7 linked regions of the Homo sapiens genome follow. The protein of the gene in region 6 purifies or fractionates together with the protein of the main gene of each other region. This does not show direct contact. Each region holds a gene or a part of one and is shown on either strand. Other genes may lie near its edges. The genes, in order: KIF23, YTHDC1, ATXN2, ZC3H11A, LARP1, APOBEC3D and SLTM.

What was found.
Region 1: the proteins of APOBEC3D (region 6) and KIF23 purify together in Homo sapiens (affinity purification with mass spectrometry; 2 studies listed by BioGRID and IntAct, with this or other methods). This does not show direct contact.
Region 2: the proteins of APOBEC3D (region 6) and YTHDC1 purify together in Homo sapiens (affinity purification with mass spectrometry; 2 studies listed by BioGRID and IntAct, with this or other methods). This does not show direct contact.
Region 3: the proteins of APOBEC3D (region 6) and ATXN2 purify together in Homo sapiens (affinity purification with mass spectrometry; 2 studies listed by BioGRID and IntAct, with this or other methods). This does not show direct contact.
Region 4: the proteins of APOBEC3D (region 6) and ZC3H11A purify together in Homo sapiens (affinity purification with mass spectrometry; 2 studies listed by BioGRID and IntAct, with this or other methods). This does not show direct contact.
Region 5: the proteins of APOBEC3D (region 6) and LARP1 purify together in Homo sapiens (affinity purification with mass spectrometry; 2 studies listed by BioGRID and IntAct, with this or other methods). This does not show direct contact.
Region 7: the proteins of APOBEC3D (region 6) and SLTM purify together in Homo sapiens (affinity purification with mass spectrometry; 2 studies listed by BioGRID and IntAct, with this or other methods). This does not show direct contact.

Annotation. Positions count from the first base shown.
Region 1 is NC_000015.10:69,438,349-69,441,848, reverse strand, and holds part of KIF23 (kinesin-like protein KIF23), read right to left. Parts: coding exon 3,444-3,500; intron 1,946-3,443; coding exon 1,772-1,945; intron 1,542-1,771; coding exon 1,362-1,541; intron 1,082-1,361; coding exon 770-1,081; intron 1-769.
Region 2 is NC_000004.12:68,326,091-68,329,590, forward strand, and holds part of YTHDC1 (YTH domain-containing protein 1), read right to left. Parts: intron 1-3,500. UniProt on the Homo sapiens protein: Regulator of alternative splicing that specifically recognizes and binds N6-methyladenosine (m6A)-containing RNAs.
Region 3 is NC_000012.12:111,487,816-111,491,315, forward strand, and holds part of ATXN2 (ataxin-2), read right to left. Parts: intron 966-3,500; coding exon 661-965; intron 1-660. UniProt on the Homo sapiens protein: Involved in EGFR trafficking, acting as negative regulator of endocytic EGFR internalization at the plasma membrane.
Region 4 is NC_000001.11:203,840,623-203,844,122, reverse strand, and holds part of ZC3H11A (zinc finger CCCH domain-containing protein 11A), read right to left. Parts: intron 1-3,500. UniProt on the Homo sapiens protein: Through its association with TREX complex components, may participate in the export and post-transcriptional coordination of selected mRNA transcripts, including those required to maintain the metabolic processes in embryonic cells.
Region 5 is NC_000005.10:154,796,877-154,800,376, reverse strand, and holds part of LARP1 (la-related protein 1), read right to left. Parts: intron 787-3,500; coding exon 618-786; intron 505-617; coding exon 335-504; intron 1-334. UniProt on the Homo sapiens protein: RNA-binding protein that regulates the translation of specific target mRNA species downstream of the mTORC1 complex, in function of growth signals and nutrient availability.
Region 6 is NC_000022.11:39,024,127-39,027,626, reverse strand, and holds part of APOBEC3D (DNA dC->dU-editing enzyme APOBEC-3D), read right to left. Parts: intron 2,558-3,500; coding exon 2,278-2,557; coding exon of another isoform or gene 2,071-2,277; coding exon 1,956-2,070; intron 1-1,955.
Region 7 is NC_000015.10:58,923,680-58,927,179, reverse strand, and holds part of SLTM (SAFB-like transcription modulator), read left to right. Parts: intron 1-3,500. UniProt on the Homo sapiens protein: When overexpressed, acts as a general inhibitor of transcription that eventually leads to apoptosis.

The sequences.
Region 1 (3,500 bases), on a different chromosome or scaffold from region 6:
TGCAGTGAGCCATAATCATGCCACTGCACTCCATCCTGGGTGACAGAGTGAGACTCTGTCTTTAAAAAAAAAAAAAGAAAAGCCAATCCAATTTTGGGACAACTGCACAATGTCTCAATAGAGGATAATTAATTAATGTTGATTTTCTTGGATGTGATAAAGATTGTGGCTAGGTAGTACAATGTCCTTATTCTTAGAGATTAAGTGTCTCTAAGTCTGTGATTTCCTTTCACAAGGCTTAGGGGAAAAAGGTTTACATATCTATATCAAGTAACAATTGGTAAACTTAGGCAAGGAGGGAAAGACATTACCATACTATTCTTTCTACTTTGCTTTGGGTCTGAAATTTTTCAAAATAAAAATTTGGGAAAACAATTTTTAAAACTAGGGCATGAAAGGAGGTATAAAAAATCTAATTTGGGGAAGGGGAACCAAAAGAAAAATATGGAAAGTATGCTTTAAGACACATTCACCAATTCTGTGCAAAGCTTATTAGCGTATGCAGCTGAAAAGCTCAGACTACTCTGGGATGCACCAAACTGACCTGTGTTCACTGAACACACTTCCGCTGCCAGATGTGTTTAGGCTTTTTCAGATGAGGAGCCAGGCCTCAATTTCCGTAAGTCAATCTTTCAAATTAACTGAGAAATTAGACCTTCTTTATACTATAGCCCAACCATTTTTCCAATGAACTTTCAGACACAAGTTACAAAAAACAAAGAAGATAAAATCTATTGCTACAATGCGTTAAAATAATACTGGCACTAACCCTGCCGCAATGATCCTCTTCTATTTCTATCTCATTTCTGAATGTAGGAACCACCTCCCTGCCTTCAGTCCAGTACATCCCTCGCCTTCTGTCTGACACGATACAAGTTTTGCTTTGTCCTGGCTCCTGCTGCCTACGCCTTGCAATAGATGTGACTTTGAGAGGTGTGTTGTACGTAGGAATTTTCTGCTCCCATTCCGAAATACAGGAAGCTACAGAAATGCTGCTGCAAGAGTTAGAGCGCCTATGTAGCTGTGGCTGGCTCATGAGTTGCTGGCCGTTGGAAATCTGAGCAATATAGTTACTAGAAAGCTAGAAAAATTGGAGAAAAATTAATGAGCAAGACTGAAAAACTGAGAGAAACAATTCATTACTTTTCTATAATGTTAGCACATGAAGACTTAACATTACAAATAATTATTTGTTCTATTTTTTTGTGCTAAATTTGTGTTTATTCTAAATTTTAAAATATTTTTAGAGAAATTTCAGAAATGTAAGTATTATAAAATGTAAAAATCCTCATAGAAATAGTCATCTAATCTGAACAAAATTTCTCTAGTACAAAGTTACTACACAATTACAAATAACTTACAGGCACAGGTGATGGAGAAACAGATCTTTGAGTAACTTTTTCTCGATCTCGCTCCCGAGAGGGTCTCTCTGGCTTCTCAGTTTTAGGTTCGGTAACAATAGCCTTCAGTTGTTTCAGCTTTTCATCTTTAACCCAGAGTTTATTCTGCATCTCCAGCTGTTTGGCTGCCACTCTACGCTCCTACAGATTATCAGTGGCAATGTATATTATCATTCCATCACAGCAAACGAGTACACCAGATTACCCAATCTCTTTATTTCCTAAAAATGACAGTTCTCCAATTCTTCCTGAGAGTTAACAACCACCACCAAAACCCTACCGCAAATACAATAATTCAAAATATCGAACCTAACTACAATGTAAAATAAATCATCCGACTCTGAGACAAGCACTACCCAAACGATACTCACACATTCTTTCTCCCACTTCATTGTCGTTTCTGTCACCATGCCTTGCAACCTGGCTTCTAATCTGCGTTTGTCAGAAAACTGTCGCTGAAGTTTCTGGTTCTGAGTTTCAAGTTCCTGTTGCAAATTGCGTTTATCTTCCTCATAGATAGTAGTTGTTTTCTCTAAAATCTCAATCTAGGAAGGTAGACCACTATGTTCAATATTTGGTATATAAACATTTCATGTCGCTATAAAATAGTCTTCCTTAATTTGCTTATGCAAGCATATTTGTGGAAAGAAACATCATGGAGAAAGCACTTTTTTCTCTAACATTTCATCTGAATTCCCACCCCCATTCTCAGAAATGAAAACATGTTAAACAAGCTCCTCACCCAAAGACATTTACAACTAACTTCATGTGAAAATTACTTTCTCCTAAAATTAAGGGCTAAAATTTAGTTTTTAGGCTATTTTCAGAATTTAAAAAAACTATATTGGTTGAGACTAACTTCTCTTATGAATGTGTACCCCCACCAAACCTCTAAATGACCCTCTGTAAATGAGAGAACAGACATACATTACACAGTGCTGCAATGCTTCCCAACAAAACGGTATTTCCTTCTACCCCATTGTAAGAGATTAATCCTGAGTTTATACTTTTACAATCGATTTGTAAACCAAATACAGATCCAATTAAGCTTTACTGAGTATCTGTTACGTCCAAGGCCCGATGCTGGCACTTTTATACCATTTCATTTAATCATTTATCTCATTAAAAAAAAAAAGCATACTAAGGAAATATTTCTAATAAATTCAAAAGCAAGCTACAACCAAAGCTAAGCTCTAGAAAGCTCCCTTGTTTGGGTCAGAGAACATCCTTTTCAACTGTTAAAACTCTCATAAAATTAAAGAACATATGATTCTTCATTTCACTCACATTTCCTCCTTAGCATGGGATGAGGATTAGTAAACAACCAATTGAGAACTTTTTTTTTTTTTTTGAGACAGGCTCTCGCTCTGTCACCTAGGCTGGAGTGCAGTCGTGCAATCCCAGCTCACTGCAGCCTCAACCTCCCAGGCTCAAGCTGTTCTCCCATCTCAGCCTTCCGAGTAGCTGGGACTACAGACATGTACCACCATGCCTGGCTAATTTTTTTTGTAGATATGGGGTTTCGCCACGTTGCCCGGTCTGGTCTGGAACTCCTGGGCTCAAGTGATCTCCCTGCCTTGGCCTCCCAATGTGCTGAGACTACAGGCATGAGCCCCCGCACTCAGCCTGAGAACTCTTTTTTTTTTTGAGACAGAGTCTTGCTCTTGTCGCCCAGGCTGGAGTGCAGTGGCTCAATCTCGGCTCACTGCAACCTCCACCTCCCCAGTTCAAGCGATTCTCCTGCCTCAGCCTCCTGAGTAGCTGGGATTACAGGCACTCGCCACCACGCCCAGCTAACTTTTGTACTTTTTTAGTAGAGATGGGCTTTTGCCATGTTGGCCAGGCTCGTTCTTGAACTCCTGACCTCAGATGATCTGGCCACCTCAGCCTCCCAAAGTGTTGGAATTACCTGCATGAGCCACCGCACTCAACCGAGAACTCTTAATAAGCAGCATTTACAGGCCGTTGGAGCACAATATCTCCCTCAGAGAACAGTGCTAAAACACCAGCACATACATCTATCATAATAATGTCAAAACAAACCTTATATTCTAAAGTTTTGTTTTTCTTTTCCAGTCGTTCTATTTCCAATTTCTGTCC
Region 2 (3,500 bases), on a different chromosome or scaffold from region 6:
TAAATGAAAACCTACAGCCACCAAAATATAAGAAGGTTATAAATTAATGGGATTATCACTGTTATTTAAATATCAGCAATTAAATACCCACGATCCAAGTAGAAGTAAAAGCATAGGCCAAGCTAAATGTATCATTTGGGGTTGAGATTCTTTGGTGGCACTGGTTCCAACTAGATTCAAGAGACATCTGTTCACTGTTTCAACACAGTTAATCTCAGCCAGAACATCACAGAAAACTGTGAAGCCTGAGGCAAAACAGGGCTCAGAATAAATTAAGAAAAATTGCAGGGTCTGTGATCCATGTAGCATCCTTATTTTATCCTTTCTTCTCAGATCACAATCATAGAACAAGCAACCTAACAGTTACCTTCTGAGCAGCTATGTTATGAAGCATACAGATACAACTTATCTTTACTGTGAGTTCTTTGAGAACATGTAAGGGACTCTCTGACCTAAGTGGTTCTGCAAATAGGGCAAATTTAACAAAGAATGTAAAACTGTGCACAGTTTTTTGTTTTGAGACACAGTCTCACTCTGTTACCCAGACTGGAGTGCAGCTGCATGATCTCGGCTTGCTGCAACCTCCGCCTCCTGAGTTCAAGGGATTCTCATGCCTCAGCCTCCCATGTAGCTGGGACTACAGGCATGCGCCACCACATCTGGCTAATTTTTGCATTTTTAGTAGAGACGGGGTTTCACCATGTTGGCCATGCTAGTCTCGAACTCCTGGCCTCAAGTGATGCACCCACCTCAGCCTCCCAAAGTGCTGGGATTACAGGCATGAACCACTGCGCCCAGCCATGCAGAGGCTCTTATATGCTGGACAGTGGTTTGTTGATTAAAGTTAAAAAGAAAAATGGAGGCCGGGCGCAGTGGCTCATGCCTGTAGTAATCCCAGCACTTTGGGAGGCTGAGGCGGGCGGATCACCTGAGGTCGGGAGTTCGAGACCAGCCTAACCAACATGGAGAAACCCCGTCTCTACTAAAAATAAAAAATTAGCCGGGCGTGGTGGCACATGCCTGTAATCCCAGCTACTAGGGAGGCTGAGGCAGAAGAATCGCTTGAACCCGGGAGGCGGAAGTTGTGGTGAGCCGAGATTGCGCCATTGCACTCTAGCCTGGGCAACAAGAGCGAAACTCCGTCTCAAAAGAAAAGAAAAGAAAAATGGAGAGACTCTAAATGAAAACAGAAATGGGTTGTTTGGAATGGACATGAAAGGAATATAACACCTAGTCAGTAAATGTAACTCTGGATGAATAGTATTTCATAGATCATGCCTTATTTTGAGCTAATTACAGGTGGCAACCTTAATAAGTCGCTTTTTATGCCTCCCTCTCTTTATCAGCTAAAACATGACACTTATCTGGTCCCAATCTTCCATGTGCCTACCAACTACCTGAACCATCAAGAATTTAACAGGTTTGAGGTGGGTTTCAAGATTCTGCATTTTAACAGTCAGATGCTACTGATGTAAGTGATCCAGGGATCACACCTAAAAAAGCTTAAGTCTAGTTATTATTATATCCAAAGGGTCCTTAAATATAAATCTAATAATTATTATATCTGCAAAAGAAAAAAATATTAACAGCAGTTACTGTTGATAGCAAAGTCCTGACCATTTCTATTTATTAAATTTAAATGTTCTGAGACTCAAATGTAATTCTCACTATATAGAGAGAATTTAAACTCAAGAGAGTTCAAGTGACTTATCTAAGGAAATATCAATGTTAGAAATATCACAAGCCCTCCAGAACTGTAAAGTATTGTAAAATTACACTTGAATAGAACTTGAGTATTAAAACATTAAAACTATAGTTTTATTATGTAAAAATACTATTTCTAGGTAAACCCATAAACTTACTTTAAAATAATAAAAGCACTTTACTGCCCACAATTTTACACCTCACGTTAGTAGGATAGACAAATTGAGTCTGTCTACCTCTTCGGTTGCTTGATACATTTCAAACAAATTAGTAGAATAGTCAATAAGTCAATGAAGAGGAATATGAAGAATGAATAATCCATGAAAAATTAAATTCATCTTAAAATTAAGAATTTCCTTATCAGTAATGTAAAAATGAAGGTTAACAGAACAAATAACATTTGAAACAAAATCTGCTGCAACCCACATAAAAATGGGCAATTATTTTCTCTCCTGTTCCCAAGAAAGCAACACCTGCAAATATGTTACATTACAACGTTTCCTCTGGCCTTTACAGAGCAGTCACATACACACACAAAATAAAAATAATCACTCCCTTTCCTACAAATTGTCACCAGATTTTCAACTTTAATTATAACTTAATTATAATTTTGATTTCAAAAAAACCAAGTTTATATTTTAAAACCCCTGGGGGCAACAGAGAGGAAGTGGGAGAAAGCACTAACAGTCTCACCACCTAACACTGCATTCCAATACCATAATTATGTATTTTTTCATTTGTTATACCTTTCCATGTTGATATGTGCACAATTACTTCCACATATATTTAAGAGACAAACTATAATTTAACTAATTTTCTATTTCAAAGAATTTAGATGATTTCCAACTCTTTCCCACAGAAAGTAATAATGGGATGAGTATTTTTTCTGCACATAGCTTTTTGCTACGCTATTATCAACCTAATACAGTTATGTGTCACTTAATGACAGGGATACACTCATTAGGTGATTTCATTGTGTGAACATCACAGAATGCACTTACACAAACCTAAATGGTATAGCCTACTACATACCTAGGATATATGGTATGACCTGTTTCTCCTAGCCTACAAATCTGCACAGCATGTTACTGTATTGAATAGTGTAGGTAAATGTAACACAATGGAAAATACTTGTGTATCTAAACATAGAAAAGGTATAGTAAAATATGGTATTATAGGTACCTCTTACGAGTCCTACAGTCTTATGGGACAAGATTCTTTGTTGATGGGTATGTCACTACACAGTAAGTGACTGTATGCTATTTGTAATATATCACTCCCTCTATCTTCACAGCTCCTCACTATCCTACAATAAACATTTAGGCTGACTCACATTCATTCATTCTTATCCATCTTTGCCCTCTGTTCTTCTCTTTTCCTAACCATCTCCTTCATAAAAAAAGGTAGCTCCCTATCCCACTCACACATCCATATGCCCTCCCACTGCTCCCCACAACCCTGCAACCCCATAGTTTGTTTCCATGCTCTTCTTGGCTTAGGCTGATTTCCATCATATGCATAGCATTTTTCTTCTTTTTCATCCGACCCCTTCAGGCTCATCAAGATCTAATACCCAAAAACAACTTAAAACTCACAAAGTAACCATCTCCTTTCAGACACTTTTTAACTAAAATTAATTTTACAGGTAATACATTTGTGTATGCCACGTAAAGATCACTTAAATAATGAGCTTCTTGTGTACAATACTTCAGTGTGCAGTAAGGACCTAAAAATAGTGACAACTCAGTGTTCAAAATAAGCCTGATTATTTTTCTAATAAATACAGTTAAATCTTA
Region 3 (3,500 bases), on a different chromosome or scaffold from region 6:
GGAAAAAGTCATGGCTGTAAAAAAAAATTGCCTCAAATCAAGAATAAGCAGTCCCCAATTTATCAATAAGCTGCATTCCAAAACTTCAGCTTTAACTGGATTGTTTGGTACCCAAACACCTAAGTCAATGGTAGTTAAGTTCTGAGGTTAGCCCCTAAAAGTCCATTTAATTAATATACTGAATGTGCAGAATTAAGTCTATCTTAACAAATCTAAACATTAACTAAAACACAGTTTCTGATGAAAAATATTTTGAATTCCAAGTAGAAGCACCGCATGCTTCTCTCCTTGACAGTGGCAGTTTTTCAACCTAGCAGCACAGTGAGGGTGACTAATGAGTGGAATCCAGTAAAGATAGGTCCCCTGAATTGATAATTTTTCAACTCCTGTTCATTTACAGAAAAACTTTTCTTAATTTATGCCTTGTTTTTCTAGCCCTGGGGTACAAAAAAGGGGAAGAACAGAAGAGTAGCACAGGGTGCAATAACCTCATTTACTTAAGATGTCATTTGTTTGGACTAGCTGTTTGTAAACTAAGGGCAATGTATAAAGTAGTCTAAAAGTCCAGATGGATTCTTCACAGTTGGAAGGACCTAAATGCCTTTAAAAAAAAAAAAGTTAATTGAGTAACAGGATGGTCTAAGTTCCAGGTTTACTCACTCAGCTGCGTCTTTCTTCTCTTCCTTATCGTCTTTCTCTTGTTTACATGCTGGGCTGGAAGTCTGAACCCCTTGGGAAGTGACCTCAGGTCCCCTCTTGTGCTCCGTGTTACTAAGTATTGAAGGGGAAATGCTGGGGCTATTCGGCTTGCTGCTGCCACTGGTACAGTTGCTGCTGCTATTTTCAATGAAAGAATCCTTAGCACTTGGTTCAATTTTGTCTTTGATCAAATCTCTTGATTTTTCTCCCTCTCTATTTTTGTTTAGTAGTTGATCCATAGATTCAGAAGTAGAACTTGGCTGTAACTAAATAAAGGAAACAATTATACTTAAATATCTTAAATAACTTTAGTAATACATTTTTGCCATGAGCACAAGCTACGTAATATTAACTATACGCATGAAATGTTCTGAATAAGGCTTTTTTCATACTTTAAGAGTAATGCTTTTACTATAAACTAACAATAACAGAGTACCTATATAGCACAACCACAGTCACCAAAGCACTCAAATGTCCTAGCCTCTAAAGTTCAATATTTACTGAGTGCTTACCACATGTCAGAAATTGTGCCTGCTGGGTGAGAAAAATATGAAATAGTTTCTATCCTCTTATACTTGTCATTTAAATAAGATCAGACACTTCACAATAAAATGAGTAAATGCTAAGAGAGTCTATAGAAAAAGCAACCTATAAAAAAGAAAGGTTTCTCAGTAAAGTGTCAGCTAGTCTAAGGTGTGAAAGAAGTTTAGGAAAGGTGTTGGGATGGAGAATAGTCTAAGTAAAAGGAAGAGTATGTTTAAAAATCCAAAGAAAAGGGAGAAGCTGGCTCTATCACATAAAACAATAGCACCAATGGGGGCCGGGCACGGTGGCTCACGCCTGTAATCCCAGCACTTTGGGAGGCCAAGGCAGGCGGATCACGAGGTCAGGAGATCGAGACCATCTTGGCTCACACGCTGAAACCCCATCTCTACTAAAAATACAAAAATTAGCCAGGCATGGTGGCAGGCGCCTATAGTCCCTGCTACTCGGGAGGCTGAGGTAGGAGAATGGTGTGAACCTGGGAAGTGGAGCTGCAGTGAGCCAAGATCACGCCACTGCACTCCAGCCTGGGTGACAGAGCGAGACTCCGTCTCAAAAAAAAAAAAAAAGATAGCACCAATGAGCTGGGCACAGTAGCTCATCACTGTAATTCCAGCCCTTTGGGAGGCTGAGACAAGCAGACTGCTTAAGCTCAGGAGTTCAAGACCAGCCTGGGCAACATAGTGATACCCTGTCTCATTTAAAAAATAATAATAAAATAAAATAAAATAACAAAAATAAAGAAGTAAAGAAAAGCACCAATGGCTGGACCAAGGGTGAGACACACATGTACAAGTGAGTCAGAAAATGATAGACTCGTCAAAAGGAATATGACAATAAAGGAACTTAAAAGCTATGTTCAGGGCTGCGTGCAGTGGCTAACACCTATCATCCTAGCACTTTGGGAAGCCAAGGCAGGTGGATCACTTGAGGTCAGGAGTTTAAGACCAGACTGGCCAACATGGTGAAACTCCGTCTCTACTAAAGATAAAAAAAAAAAATTAGCCAGGCGTGATGGCACACGTGTAAATCCCAGCTACTTGGGAGGCTGACATATGAGAATTGCTTGAACCCAGGAGGCGGAGGTTGCAGTGAGCCAAGATCACACCACTGCACTCCAGCCTGGGTGACAGAGCAAGACTCCATCTAAAAATTAAAAAAAAAAAAAAAAAAGTTTTAAAAAGCTACGTTTAGGACTTTGGCTTTTAATTCTCAGGGCAAATGGGCAGTCTATACGGAATTTTAAGTAGGGTAGAGTACTGGGCAGATTTATAGTTCAGAAAGGTGAACACAGCAGCTTTGTGTGAAATGAACTGGAGGGAGGCTAATTAGGATGTGGAGGGACCGTCATGGAGGCTGGACTAAGCGCTGGGCCTAGTCAGCTTGGAAGGTCATTAAGTAGGTGAATTCAGAATGAGACCTGACTGTACATATTGGTCAGTTAGACATTCTAAACCCCTAAGTAAAAAAAGGAGATGGCAGGGGAGAAGAGACAGAGCATGGTGGCCAAACAGAACCTTCCAGTGATCATCCCCAACAAGGAGCACCAAATTGAACAACTATCCACACAAGAAAGCACCTTCATAAGAACCAAAAATTAGGTAAGCGATCACAGTACCCAGTTTTGACATCCTATCAAGGAAAAAGACACCAAAAAAGATAAGGAAGATAGTCTTGAACTGCCCCTCCAACACCCCTGACATTCCCCCACAATGCAGTGTGGGGTGGAGAAAGAATCTGTGTGCTCGGGGGAGAGAGAGAGAAATGACTGTGGGATTTTGCATTGAAACTCAGTGCTGCCCTGTCACAGTGGAAAGCAGCATAGGACAGAATTCAGCCAGCACCCACAGAGGGAGTATTTAGACTAGCCCTAGTCAGAGGGGAATTGTCCATCCCAGTGATTAGAATCTGAATTTCGGGCTGGGCACTATGGTCTGTAATCCCAGCACTTTGGGAGGCCGAGGCGGACGGATAACCTGAGGTCGGGAGTTCAAGACCAGCCTGACCAACATGGAGAAACCTCATCTCTACTAAAAAACAAAAAAATTAGCCAGAGGTGGTAGCGCATGCCGGTAATCCCAGCTACTCAGGAGGCTGAGGTAGGAGAATTATTTGAACCCGGGAGGCGGAGGTTGTGGTGAGCTGAGATTGCGTCACTATACTCCAGCCTGGGCAATAAGAGCGAAACTCTGCCAAAAAAAACCAAAAGAATCTTAATTTTGGTAAGCCCCACCACCGTGGGTAAAGTCCTCTGGGGT
Region 4 (3,500 bases), on a different chromosome or scaffold from region 6:
CACTTTGGGAGGCCAAAGTGGGCAGATCATCTGAGGTCGGGAGTTCGAGACCAGCCTGACCAACATGGAGAAGCCCCGTTTCTACTAAAAATACAAAATTAGCCGGGCGTGGTAGCGCATGCCTGTAATCCCAGCTACTCGGAAGGGTGAGGCAGGAGAATCACTTGAACCTGGGAGGCAGAGGTTGCAGTGAGCCGAGATCGCACCATTGCACTCCAGACTGGGCAACAAGAGCGAAACTCCATCTCAAAAAAAAAGAAGAAATCCCAGGCCGAGAATAAAGAAAAAAAAATAAGAGAACAAAGAAAGTTCTTGAAAAATAAAAACACCAAGTGCCAAAATAAATTCATATGAAGGACTGGATAATAAAGATAAGGCTGGCCCCAAATCAGCCATTTAAAAAGGCATAGGCAAACTATATATAGCCCATATGGCCACCACCTAATTTTGTAAATGAAGTTTTGCTAGAACACACCAGCAGTCATTCATTTACATATTGCATACATATGCATATGGCTGCTTTCATTCTACAATGGCAGAGTGGGGTAGCTGCAATACTGTGGACTGCAAAGTTATTTATATCCGACCCTTTACAGGAAAAAAATTGTCAATTCCTTGTCTAAAAAATAAAGTTGAACAAAGCTCACAGAAGGTTAGCCAAAAACAAAGAAACAAAAAGTATACAGAGACATGCAGGCATATGTCCCAAAGTTCCAACATCTATCTAATACAAATTTCACAAGGAGAAAACAAAAAGAAATGTGGGGCAGTCATACTCAAAAGAAATTAATGTTTTCTAGAGCTAAAGACAAATCTTTAGATTCAAGGGCCCACTGAATCAGTATTTATGTATTTACTGAATCAGTATTTATGATAAATACTGATTATCATAAATACTGATTTAGCAGAATGAACAAAAATGATCCATGTTTGATCCACAACAGTGAACCTGCAGCATACTAGGGAGAGATAAAACCCTAGAAATCTCTGAATAATTCAGGTTGCATACAACAGAATAAGAATGTCCAACATCGGACTCCCTTTTTATGATGCTAATATAACTTTAACATCCAAATGAGATAAGGATGGGGGATAAAAAGTAACCTAAGGTGGCTAACAGCATTCATAAATAGAGATGTAAAAATATAAAATTTTTAAAAGCCTCAAACTGAATTCAGCAAGGTATTAAAAAAAAAAAGACGGAAGGCTGAATACATGGATGTTCATTTTATTATTCCTTAAACTGTACATATATATACTTATGTAGTTATATTTCATAATTTAAAAAATTTAAAAATTATAACACAGAAAGAATATAAAGAAAACCTCAATACCCAGATGACACCAATTTTATTTATATTCTCGTGTATTTTTGAAGATTTTTTTAAAGGTATATGTTTATATCTTTACAAAATTAGAATAATCTCATACATATGCATGTTTCTCCTGAGAATAAGTTTCTATAATAAGAAAATAAACTTAAAAAAAAAAAAAAAAGATTCCCCCTCCCCCTCCCCCTCTCCCCGGTCTCCCTCTGATGCCACCAAAGTTGTGAAAGCCAAGGCTGGACTGTACTGCTGCCATCTCGGCTCACTGCAACCTCCCTGCCTGATTCTCCTGCCTCAGCCTGCAGAGTGCCTGGGATTGCAGGCGCGCGCCGCCACACTTGACTGGTGTTTGCATGTTTTGGTGGAGACGGGGTTTCGCCGTGTTGGCCGGGCTGGTCTCCAGCTCCTGACCGCGAGTGATCTGCCTGCCTCAGCCTCCCGAGGTGCCGGGATTGCAGACGGAGTCTCGCTCACTCAGTGCTCAATGTTGCCCAGGCTGGAGTGCAGTGGCGTGATCTCGGCTTGCTACAACCTCCACCTCCCAGCCGCCTGCCTTGCCTCCCAAAGTGCTGAGATTGCAGCCTCTGCCCGGCCGCCACCCCGTCTGGGAAGTGAGGAGCGTCTCTGCCTGGCCGCCCATCGTCTGGGATGTGAGGAGCCCTTCCGCCCAGCCGCCCAGTCTGGGAAGTGAGGAGCGCCTCTTCCCAGCCGCCATCCCGTCTAGGAAGTGAGGAGTGTCTCTGCCCGGCCGCCCATCGTCTGAGATGTGGGGAGCGCCTCTGCCCTGCCGCCCCGTCTGGGATGTGAGGAGCCCCTCTGCCCAGCCGCGGCCCCGTCTGGGAACTGAGGAGTGTCTCTGCCCGACCGCCACCCCATCTGGGAGGTGAGGAGCGTCTCTGCCCGGCCGCCCCGTCTGAGAAGTGAGGAGCCCCTCCGCCCGGCAGCCGCCCCGTCTGCGAAGTGAGGAGCCCCTCCGCCCGGCAGCCGCCCCGTCCGGGAGGGAGGTGGGGGGCGCCTCCACCCGGCCACTGCCCCGTCTGGGAGGTGGGGGGCGCCTCTGCCCGGCCGCCCTATCTGGGAAGTGAGGAGCCCCTCTGCCCAGCCACCACCCCGTCTGGGAGGTGTACCCAACAGCTCATTGAGAACGGGCCATGATGACAAAGGCGGTTTTGTCGAATAGAAAACGGGGAAATGTGGGGAAAAGAAAGAGAGATCAGATTGTTACTGTGTCTGTGTAGAAAGAAGTAGACATGGGAGACTCCATTTTGTTCTGTACTAAGAAAAATTCTTCTGCCTTGGGATGCTGTTAATCTATAACTTTACTCCCAACCCCGTGCTCTCTGAAACATGTGCTGTGTCCACACAGGGTTAAATTGATTAAGGGCGGTGCAAGATGTGCTTTGTTAAACAGATGCTTGAAGGCAGCATGCTCGTTAAGAGTCATCACCACTCCCTAATCTCAAGTACCCAGGGACACAAACACTGCAGAAGGCCGCAGGGTCCTCTGTCTAGGAAAACCACAGACCCTTGTTCACATGTTTATCTGCTGACCTTCCCTCCACTGTTGTCCTATGACCCTGCCAATCCCCCTCTCCGAGAAACACCCAAGAATGATCAATAAATACTAAAAAAAAAAATAAAAAAAAAAAAAAGATTCTTATGTTGCCCTAAATCAGGAGGTCAAAAGTGGTATGTGCTCTCTGTTATCTTTCTTCACTTGATACAATGCAAGTTGATTTTTCCATATCGTTGTTCAGCATTTGACTTTTCATGACAGCAATTATTTTAGCACATAACTATCATAATTTTATCTAAACCCTTTTTATTGTATATTTAAGTTGTTTCTAATTTCCTACTATTTAGCCGGGTGCGGTGGCTCGTGCCTGTAATCCCAGGATTTTGGGAGGCTGAGGCAGGTGGATCACCTAAGGTCAGGAGTTTGAGACCAGCCTGACCAACATGGTGAAACCCCGTCTCTACTAAAAATACAAATATTAGCAAGGCATGGTGGCGTACGCCTGTAATTCTAGCTACTCGGTAGGCTGAGGCAGGGGAATTGCTTGAACCCAGGAGGTGGAGGTTGCAGTGAGCTGAGACCTTGCCATTTAACTCCAGCCTGGGCAACAAGAGCAAAACTCTGTCTCAAAAATAAATAAAATAAATAAATAAATA
Region 5 (3,500 bases), on a different chromosome or scaffold from region 6:
CAGCCCCAGAAATTTAGATGGAGCAAAAAGAAGAGCCAAGAATCAAGAAGCCAGAAACATCGCTGCCAGATGCTGCATGATCCCTTAAGAAAAATGTCACCGAGGAACTCACACAGTAGGGCGCCCTAAAGGGTGGTTCCCCACAGGAAATGGAAACAAGCCAAATCAACCTTTCTGTAGCCACTACTGGTAACTTCAACTCACACTATGATCCTGAACTACCCAGATTTCCTGCTGGCCCCTCAGAGCTAGAGTGCTGTGCCCATGTGTTATCCCCTTCAAGCACCCTAGCTCAGAGTGCTAGAACCAAGGCAAGGGACAAGGCCTCACCCACCTTGGGCCGTGCTGGGGATGGCCGAGGCCTCTTCTTCACTTCAATCCAGTTCTCAGAATCCAGGTCAGGCAGGCTGGCAGACAGGCCCTTGGGTAGTGTCTTTAGGTTGCTGACCTCCTCTGTTTTGGTTGGCACTGGGGTGACTGCACGAGGAGAGCCAGGTGCCGACTCTAAAGGGTGGAAAGGGGAAGTCCTCATCCCTCCAGTCCTCCTCCTGATGCCAGCCCTGAGGAGGACTGTTGCCCAGAGGACAAGGGCAATCTTCATGCCAGCAGGTACCTACCTGTCTCCTTTTGGTAGTGCTGACGGGGAACAAATTCAGGGCAGTTGAGAAGCTGGGAGAAATCAGTCTGTGAATAATCCACTATTGGGGGAAGAGGCCACTTTTCTGGTTCCTCCCTCCTACGAACTTTCTCATCAACGATCTCCACCACCTTGCTGTCCTTTAGGGCCTGAAGGGGAGGAGAAGGAAGAGGGGATTAAGAAGAAAATCTTGGACAGAAAGATCTTGGAAATGGTAGACAACTGGGTTCCCCTGAGCTTGGTATGAGTCCAATGCTACCAGTAATATAAGAAAATTGACACCATCTTCCACGACTGGTAGATAATGTGAGATGTTCAAACTTGTAGGAGGTACCAGCATAATAAATACACCTACCCTTTTACTCTTTGAGCCTGCAATCCTACTTCCAGTAATCTGCTCTAGAGAACACTTGCACAAACAGGGAGCAGTATGTATAATATCTGGACAAAAAGCCATTCACAGTAAAACTAGAGTAGAAAAAGAACTATAAAATACCTAACTTGCCATCGCATAGGCAATTTAAATATTTACAGCATATGCATGATGGAACACTACTCAGACATTAAAAAACTTTACAGGTCGGGCCTGGTGGCTCACGTCTATAATCCTAGCACTTTGGGAGCCCCAGGCAGGCAGATCACAAGGTCAAGAGATTGAGACCATCCTGGCCAACATGGTGAAACCCCATCTCTACTAAAAATACAAAAATTAGCTGGTTGTGGTGGCACACGCCTATAGTCCCAGCTATTCGAGAGGTTAAGCAGGAGAATCGCTTGAACCCAGGAGGTGGAGGTTGTGGTGAGCCGAGATGGTGCCACTGCACTCCAGCCTGGGCGACAGGGCGAGACTCCGTCTCAAACAAACAAACAAACAAACAAACAAAAAAACAACCAACTTTACATGTGCTGAGGTGGATAAACCCACAAAATATTAATCAAAAAAGCAGGCTGGGTACAGTGGCTCACACCTGTAATCCCAACATTTTGGGAGGTCAAGGTGGGTAGATCGCTTGAGCAAAGGAGTTCAAGACCAGCCTGAGCAAAATAGCGAGACTCTATCACTACAAATCGTAAAAAGGTGGCGCTGGCATACATCTGTGGTCCCAGCTACTTGGGAGCCTAGATGGTTGAGGTTGCAGTGAGCTTTGATAACACCACTGTACTAACTCCAGCCTGGGCAAAAGAGCAAGACCTAGTCTCAAAAAAACAACCAAAACATCCATCTATAGGAGCAGCAGTTGAAAAAACATGGAGCATTCCACACAATGGTGAACTATGCAACTGTACACAGGAATGAGGAATATCTTTCTATTATATACTGCTACTTTGCAGTTAGCTCCCAGATATATTAAGTTAAAACAAAAAAGAATTGAAGAAATGCCATGTGTTGTATATTTCCATTTACCAAGGATACAAATACATGTAGAGGCATTTGCTTTTTTCTTAAATGGAAAGGTTCTAAAAAGTTTGCCTGTAAGAGAAGAAAGGGTGTAAGTGACAGAATTTAAGTCAGACTTCTATGACTATACCATGCTGAGACTCTAGAACCACGTAAATGTTTTACACAAATGTAAAACAACTTAGAAAATTATAGGGGTAGGGAGAAAGCAATCTCTAAAACTTGGAAGCAAAATAAAACTAATATATATATCAATTTAAATGTGAAACCACACAAAGATTCTTTCAAATGACTTGAAGATACTGTATAAGTGGAAAAACTGTTTTCAGTGGTAGTGGAGGTATTGTAAGAATGTAGAGCTTGGCACAATGGCTCACGCCTGTAATCCCAACACTTTGGAAGCCGAAGTGAGAGGATGGCTCAAGCCCAGGAATTTCAGACCAGCCTGGGCAACACTGCAAGACCTCATCTCTACAAAAAATTTAAAAATTAGCCACACGTGGTGTGCACCTGTAATCCTGCTACTCAGGAGGCTGAGGCAAGAGGATTGCCTGATTTCAGGCGGTTGAGGCTGCAGTAAGCCATGATCACACCACTGCAATCTAGCCTGTGAGAGCAAGACCCTCTCTCTTTAAAAAATGTTTAAAAAAAAAAAAAAAAGACGGTAGACATACTGTGAAATAAAACAAAATGAGTAATTATGTTGGTATCATTAGGAATTAAGATTATGGGCATGGAAGAAAGCAGTAGGTAAAATAAAAGATCCACAAGTCTACGTAAAGACCCTTTAATAGAAAATACCAGAACAGGCCGGGCGCGGTAGCTCATGCCTGTAATCCCACCACTTTGGGAGGCCGAGGTGGGTGGATCACCTGAGGTCAGGAGTTCGAGACCAACCTGGCCAACATGGTGAAACCCCATCTCTACTAGAAATACAAAATTAGCTGGGTGTGGTGGTGCATGCCTGTAATACCAGCTACTTGGAAGGCTGAGGCAGGAGAATTGCTTAAACCTGGGAGGTGGAGGTTGCAGTGAGCTGAGACCATGCCACTGCACTCCAGCCTGGGCAACAAGAGTGAAACTCTGTCTCAAAAAAAAAAAAAAAAAAAAAAAAAAAAACAACAACAACAAAACAGAATAACTCCATGATGTATTTTATCTCACCAAAAAACAAAAAAATCATCTAGAAAGAATGACCAACCAAGTAGCAATAAAGCACCCCTATAACTCAGACTGGTATCTAAATACCATTTCCCAAAAGAAAGGAACTAGAATTCCTTTTAAAAGTGGCCAATTCCAGATCTGGGGCAGGAAATGTATAGGGTCCCACTGACCAAAGGTGGGACAATTTGATCCAATCCATTAACTGCAATGGACCAAAATAAATACGTTTGAGCCCATAAGCTTATAATAACAAATGATACGAAAACAAACCACCAAATCTCACTGGTCACCTATGAAACC
Region 6 (3,500 bases):
TAGCCTCCCTGGCAGGCTTGTCCTGGCCCTGATTTTAGTCCTGGGCTTGGGTTCTATTTCTATCGTCCAGGGCCCTTGTTCCAGGAGACACCTGCGCTGTGAGTGACCTCCCAGGCCCATCTGAGTGCAGGCCTCACTTTATGCTGCTTTCTCACCTGGATGGGAGGACCTCCGGAGGGACCCCTGGATCCTGCCCTCAGGAATCATCCCAGGGACGCCCCCCACCCGGTAGCTATGTGGTAGGGAGGGAGAGTGAGGGGCAGGTGTCTGCTTCCCCCTTGCCTTCACACTCAGAGGCCACCATTGGAGGGAGGAATAGTGGGTGGGGGTGCCCTCAGATGTCCCCCCAGGATGCCATGCGTGCCCCCACACTGAGCTCCTTCCTTCCACATCTCCTGCCCAGAGTTGTTCCCTGGCAGGCTGAGCTCTTGTCCCTATGTCACAGAAGGGCGGAGGCTGGTGTCCCCGGCCACCCTGTCTTGCAGTTTGCTCCTCCGGTCTAAGACCCAGGTGCTCAGTTCCCATCTCTCCCGAGGGCCTTAGATCTCTTTCTAGGGCCTCTCTGGTCCCTGGTTGCCCTTTTCTGTTGTGCTTCCTGGAGAGCTCCTAGCATCTCAAGCCTCCCATGATCCAAGCCTACTCTTTTGTAAAATCTTACTCAACACCTGGCCAACATTGCAAAACCCCGTCTCTACTAAAAATACAAAAATTAGCCGGCATGGTGGCATGAGCCTGTAATCCCAGGTACTTGGGAGGCTGAGACAAGGGAATTGCTAGAACCGGGAGGCAGAGGTTGCAGTGAGCCGAGATCGCACCACAGCACTCCAGCCTGGGCAACAGAGGGAGACGCTGTCTCAAAAAAAAAAAAACAAAAAAACCTTACTCAAATGGGACCTTGATCACTGAGTGTTTGCTTGACTCTTTCTGCATCTCCATCCCTGTGGGAGGGATTTGAGAAGGGACAGGCGTGAGCCGGAGGCCCAGCTAGGTGCTGTTAGGTGGGGAAGCCATGGTCTGGAGGGAGGGGCTGTGGGAGTCAGGGCAGGACTCGCCTGGGAGACAGACACACAGAACGGGGACCCCTGCACACCCCACCCAAGCTTGACCCAAGCCCCCTGGGTCATTGTCATGGGCTAAATTGTATCTTCCCTACATTGACATGTCGAAGCCCTCAACCCCACCTCCTCACAGGATAACTGTATTTGGAGACAAGTACACTAAAGTGGTGATTAAATTAACTCATGGCCCTTAGGGTGGGCCCTAATCCTGTCTGACTGGGGTCCATAAACAAGGAGGACATTTAGAGGCAGAGAGACCCCAGGAGTGCAGGTGCACAGAGGAAAGGCCAGAGAGGACAGGGCTGGAAGGGACCCCCTGCCAGCCAGGAGGAGCGGCCACAGAGGACACAACCCCACCCACCCCTCCACCTTGGACTTGCAGCCTCCAGATCTGTGAGAAAATAAATGCCTGCCCTGTGGGCACCCGGCCCGGGGGCATCTTCTATGGCCGCGGAAGCCTGAAGCTCTGTTTCCATGGTGGCGGCTCCTTCTCAGGGGCTCAGGTCGGCCTTGAAGGATGTTGCTCAAAGCTTCCGACTGTCGGGCTTGTGACTATTCATGCCCACTTACTACGTCCAGTTTTATGACAAATTCGGTTATGCCAGGGAGATAGAAGGAGCCAGGTTGGGGCTCCCAGGCTGTGGGGAGGGCAGCCTCGGGGGTGGATGGAGGTCGCTCTGGAGGCAGAAGGGGCCTCTCACTCACAGGAAGAGCCCAGGAAAGCAGGGGGGAGGCACCAAGGTGGAGGGAGCATGAGGAGTGTGGGTGAGGGGGTGTAACCATGAGGGCAGGCAGGGGGGCAGGACGGAGGGCAGGAGGGCCCAGCCAGGGGAGTCCTCAGGAGGATGAGCAGGAGGCGAGAGGAGAGAGACGATGAGGCCAGAGGGAGACCCTCACCTGAGAATCTCCTTTAGCGTGCGGTGCAGGGATGCATAATTGTCATCGAATTTGTACCAAGGCATGAATGGCTGACCTTCATTGCACACAAAGTTTTCCCAGCAGTATGCAAAGTCTGAGATGAAGAGGTGGGAAGCACTCAGGCTCTCCCCTGACCCTGGGCCTGCCCTCCCAGGCCTGGTCTCCTGGCTGTCAGTTGCAATCAGTGCCAGCCCCACCCCTGCAGGCTGCCCTGGAACACCCCCAGCCATGGCATTGCAGATCCATCCATCTCTGAGGCTGTTCCTCCCCGTCATGCTCCCCTGACCCCTGCACCTCTCACCTTCATAGTCCATGATCTTCACACGGGCCCCTGCCTTATGCAGCCTGAGGAGCACCCACCGCCAATCTCTATCCCGGTAGTAGTAGAGGCGGGCGGCAGAGATGGTCAGGGTGACATTGGGGTGCTCAGCCAAGAATTTGGTCACCTTCACCACACAGGGCAGGCAGGGGTTCCATGATACAAACCAGGTGATCTGGAAGCGCCTGTTAGCAGGCAGTCGGTTGCCACAGAACCAAGATAAGAAGCACATTTCTGCGTGGTTCTCAAACCGGAAATACACCTGGGAGAGGAGCAGGGGCAGGGGAAGCTCTGGGACGGGGGAACAGGAGGGGTGCGGGGTGGGGCAGGGGGAGGAGGGGCCAGGACAGGAGCCCAGGGGATCTTGCCATTGAAGCTCCTTTCCTCCATCCCCCCTGTTTGGTTTGAGTGATTGTCTGCTCCAAGCTGACCTTCAGTGTTAATTGCTATGGTACTGGCCTTAAGAGGTGGCACCTAGAAGAGGCTATGAGGCTGTGGGGACTGCACCTTTGTGGGTGCCACTGCTGTGGTTATTCAAAGGTGACCTCAGCCCCTCTTTCTGTCTCTTGCCCTCTAGCTGGGGGGGCAGTATGTCAGACTAAACTGCTTCCTCTTGTCCCCATGTCACGGAGCACCAGTGACTCGACATCCCAGGCCACTCTGTCTGGAGCATCCCCTGAGCTTCTGGCAACAACCTTCACCCCCATGTGACTGTGCAGCTCGCAGGCCCTGGAAAGTTGCTGGTGCCTTGACGTTGGACTTCCTGGAGTCCAGAACTCGAGCCAACACATTTCTGTTCACTGTAAATGTCCCCGTCTCAGTCCTGCTGTTGAAGCATCACAAGGTGCACCAAGACACGTGCTTCCCTGTGTTTGGAAGTTTTCCCAGCCCTGTTCATGGCCTCGTGTGTGAATTCTGGCATCCATTCTCCCAGGCATCCATTCACCAGGCATCCTCAGCCCCTACTGTGTCCTGGCCCTCTGGGGTCCGCCTTGTTCCCCACTGGGGAGGCCACTGGACCTGCGCTGTCCCATATTGGGGGGCACTGGCCAAGGGCGCTACTGAGCATCTGAAACAGGGCTCTGATGAGAGACCTCGGCACATCAAAAATACACCACTCATTTCAGTGTGAGAAGAAAAAGAAACTTCACTATCTCGCGAAGAATTTTATGTTAATCAGCGTTGAAGTAATATGTTAGCTACAC
Region 7 (3,500 bases), on a different chromosome or scaffold from region 6:
GGTATATCAGGGATTAATAGTTTTTATCTTTTTTTTAAAGGTGCCTCTCTCAAGAGCATAATGGCTTCTCCTTACACATTGATATGTAAAATATACTTACTTTTAGAACACATGAATCATTGCATCATCCTTTTATTCTTTACCACATTGATGCTGTGTTGAAAAGCCTCTGAACCTTGCTGGAATACTGTCCAACCTCAGAGGTTGTATATGTCATTTTCATTTCACAAAATTAGCCCTTTTATCGCAGCCATTAAAACATACATTTGGCCAGGCGCGGTGGCTCACACCTATAATCTCAGCACTTTGGGAGGCCGAGGTGGGTGGATCACAAGGTCAGGAGTTCGAGACTAGCCTGGCCAACATGGTGAAACCCCCTCTCTACTAAAAATACAAAAATTAGCCAGGTGTGGTAGCATGTTCTGTAATCCCAGCTACTCTGGAGGCTCAGGCAGGAGAATCACTTGAACTTGGGAGGAGGAGGTTGCAGTGAGCCGAAATGGTGCTGCTGCACTCCAGCCTGGGTGACAGAACAAGACCCTGACTCAAAGAAAAAAAAAAAAAAAGGTAATCCAGAAAAGTACAAAAAAGTGAAGATTACCCGTAATCCCACCACCCTGAATTTATCATATGTAGCATTTTACATATGATATATATACATGTTTATAATTAAGTACATGTTTACTCTGTAAAGCTTTCTAAAAGTTAATCTAATATAGTAATCAACCACATAAAGCACATTTCATATTACAACACATGTTGATCTAAGTTGTGTAGGTGTATGTGCAAGTACTTACAGGAGGTTTATGTTTAAAGGTTTTTTCCCCCCTTTTCAACAACTAAAATAGATTCACACCATACATGGTGTTTTGTTGAAGGTAGATAGAACTTAAATATTTCTGTAGTCTGGAGAATCAAAAAACAATAACCTTCCGTCTATATTCTTCTCAACAGCTTCTGTAAATAGATTCACTTGTCTTAGTGGCTCATGATCTGCACTCTGCGTTAGTCATTTGAATTTTAAAAAATACAGATAGCAGGCTTTCACTCCCCATAGAGTTGGTTTGGGTTGTTATGTTGGGGGCCCAGGCATCAGTATGTATTTTCTAAAAGCTCCCCAGGTGATTCTTACATACACCTGAAGTTAAGAACTAACTAATCTAAACTAAAGCTTGAAATTTAGCATCATTTTTATTCATCTCTCTGCTGGTCAGTTTCTAGATTATTTTATATACTTTTCAGTTTTCGGAAAACTTCTACATTGCTTTATTTGATTCTCACAACGGTGCTGAGAGTTAAGCAGGACTATTTTCTTTTTACTGGTAGAATAGAAAGGTAATTCATTAAGAACCCAGTTAAATTACCTTTGACAGTCTTGTGTTTGTAGGCACACCTGCCTGAAGGAGTGTGCCGGAATTGTTTATTCTGTTCATCTTTAGATAATTAATGTAAGATATTTGAAAAATATACCTTTGGCATATTCTAGGTTTATTATAATGAATGTGAATTATCTTTGTAGTAATTTTTCAAAGTGACCTATTGGGCCAGGTGGGATGGCTCACTCTTGTAAACCCAGCACTTTGGGAGGTGGAGGCGGGTGGATCACTTGAGGTCAGGAGTTCGAGACCAGCATGGCCAACATGGTGAAACCCCATCTCTACTAAAAATACAAAAACTAGCTGGGCATGGTGTTGGGCACGTGTAACCTTAGCTACTCAGGAGGCTGAGGCAGGAGAGTCACTTGAACCCAGGATGCAGAGGTTGCACTGAGCTGAGATTGTGCCACTGCACTCCAGCCTGGGCAATAGAGTAAGACCCTGCCACAAAAACAGAAACAAAAAACTCAGAGTGACCTATTGTATGACTGTTGTGTTTAAGACAATGTGCAAGGCCTTTCAGAAAAATGATTTTGTTAGTAAAATGTCAGTTTAATAGAAGAGAAGCTAAAACACTTGCAAACAATACAAGGCATGGCCTGTGATTAAGATACTCCATGCAATTGGGAAGAGGTTGTTGCTGGAAACATTTCAGTTTGGCATATCTTCTTAATCTTCCCCTCCCTTGCAACAGAAATTTTATAACTAAGCTTTTTTTTTTTTTTTTTTTAACATTTTATCGTAGCTCTTGTGAATGTTTAAGGGGAAAAGTTACTCAGCCATAAAGTATTTTGGCAAAATGATTTTAAAATTTCCTTAGGCTGGGAGCAGTGGCTCACGCCTGTAATCCCAGCACTTTGGGAGGCCAAGGCAGGAAGATTGCTTGGACCCAGGTGGTTGAGGCTGCAGTGAACCATGACTGCCCCTGCACTCCACCCTGGGCGATAGAGCAAGACCTTGTCTCAAAGAAAAGAAACTAATTATTAAGTGGGATTTGTTTTTGTTTGGGAGGTATTTCTGAACTTAAAAAGGAAAATTGCAAACCATTATAGGGACTAGTTTGCCTTTGGAGGAAAAGGAAAATTGCAAACCCTTATAAAGACCAATTTGCCTTTGGAGGAGAAAGCCAATTTATCATCCAAAATCCTCAGAATTCTCAAATACAAAAAGTTCTGAAAACTGAAAGTTTCTTCTTAAGTTTGGTGGCAAAAGTTATTTATAGTCTTGACTTATCCCATTTGATGTGAATCTGCTTACATTTCATTGCACAAAATGTTTCTGTGATTGTGAAATACTGTTCCAGAAGCCACTGGGAGGTTTAACTTAATAAATAGTATATGCAACGTTTTACTCTTCTAAAATCTGAAAATTGTGAATTCTGAAACATATCTCAGAGGGTTTCATTAAGAATTTTTGGGCTTATACAAATTTATGCTACATAAATGTTTATAGTCTTGTCTTTCTCTGGTATATACGTTTTTACTTTGCCATTTTACTTTAGGCCCTCAAATCATGCAAGTTATATTTTAGATTTTGTTTTTGTCATTTCAAAATAGCTATGTTACTACTATGATAGTTTAGGATGTGATAGGTTAATCTTGCTTTCATTTTTTATTTTGTTATTCAGATTATGTTTACTGCCCAATTTATTTTGTAGTTTTTTCCTCAAAGCGTAAAAGTTTGGCTTCAGGCCAGGCGTGGTGGCTCACGCCTCTAATCCCAGCACCTTGGGAGGCCGAGGCCGGTGGATCACTTGAGGCCAGGAGTTCGAGACCAGCCTGGCCAACATGATGAAACCCTGTCTCTATTAAAAATACAAAAATTAGCTGGGTGTGGTGGCATGAGGCTATAATCCCAGCTACTCAGGAGGCTGAGTCAGGAGAATTGCTTGAACTCGGAAGGCAGAGGTTGCAGTGAGCCAAGATAGCGCCTCTGCACTGCACTCCAGCCTGGGCAAGAAGAGCGAGACAGTGTCTCCAAAAAAAAAAAAAAAAAAAAAAAAAAGGTTTGGCTTCAATCTGCCTTACACTTTCAGTTAGTTCCTTTATCCTGGTCATGCCACTTTCACAGTTTTGCGGCAGTTGCTAGATTCCCTGTAGGACAAAAGAGGTGAAACTATTTAGT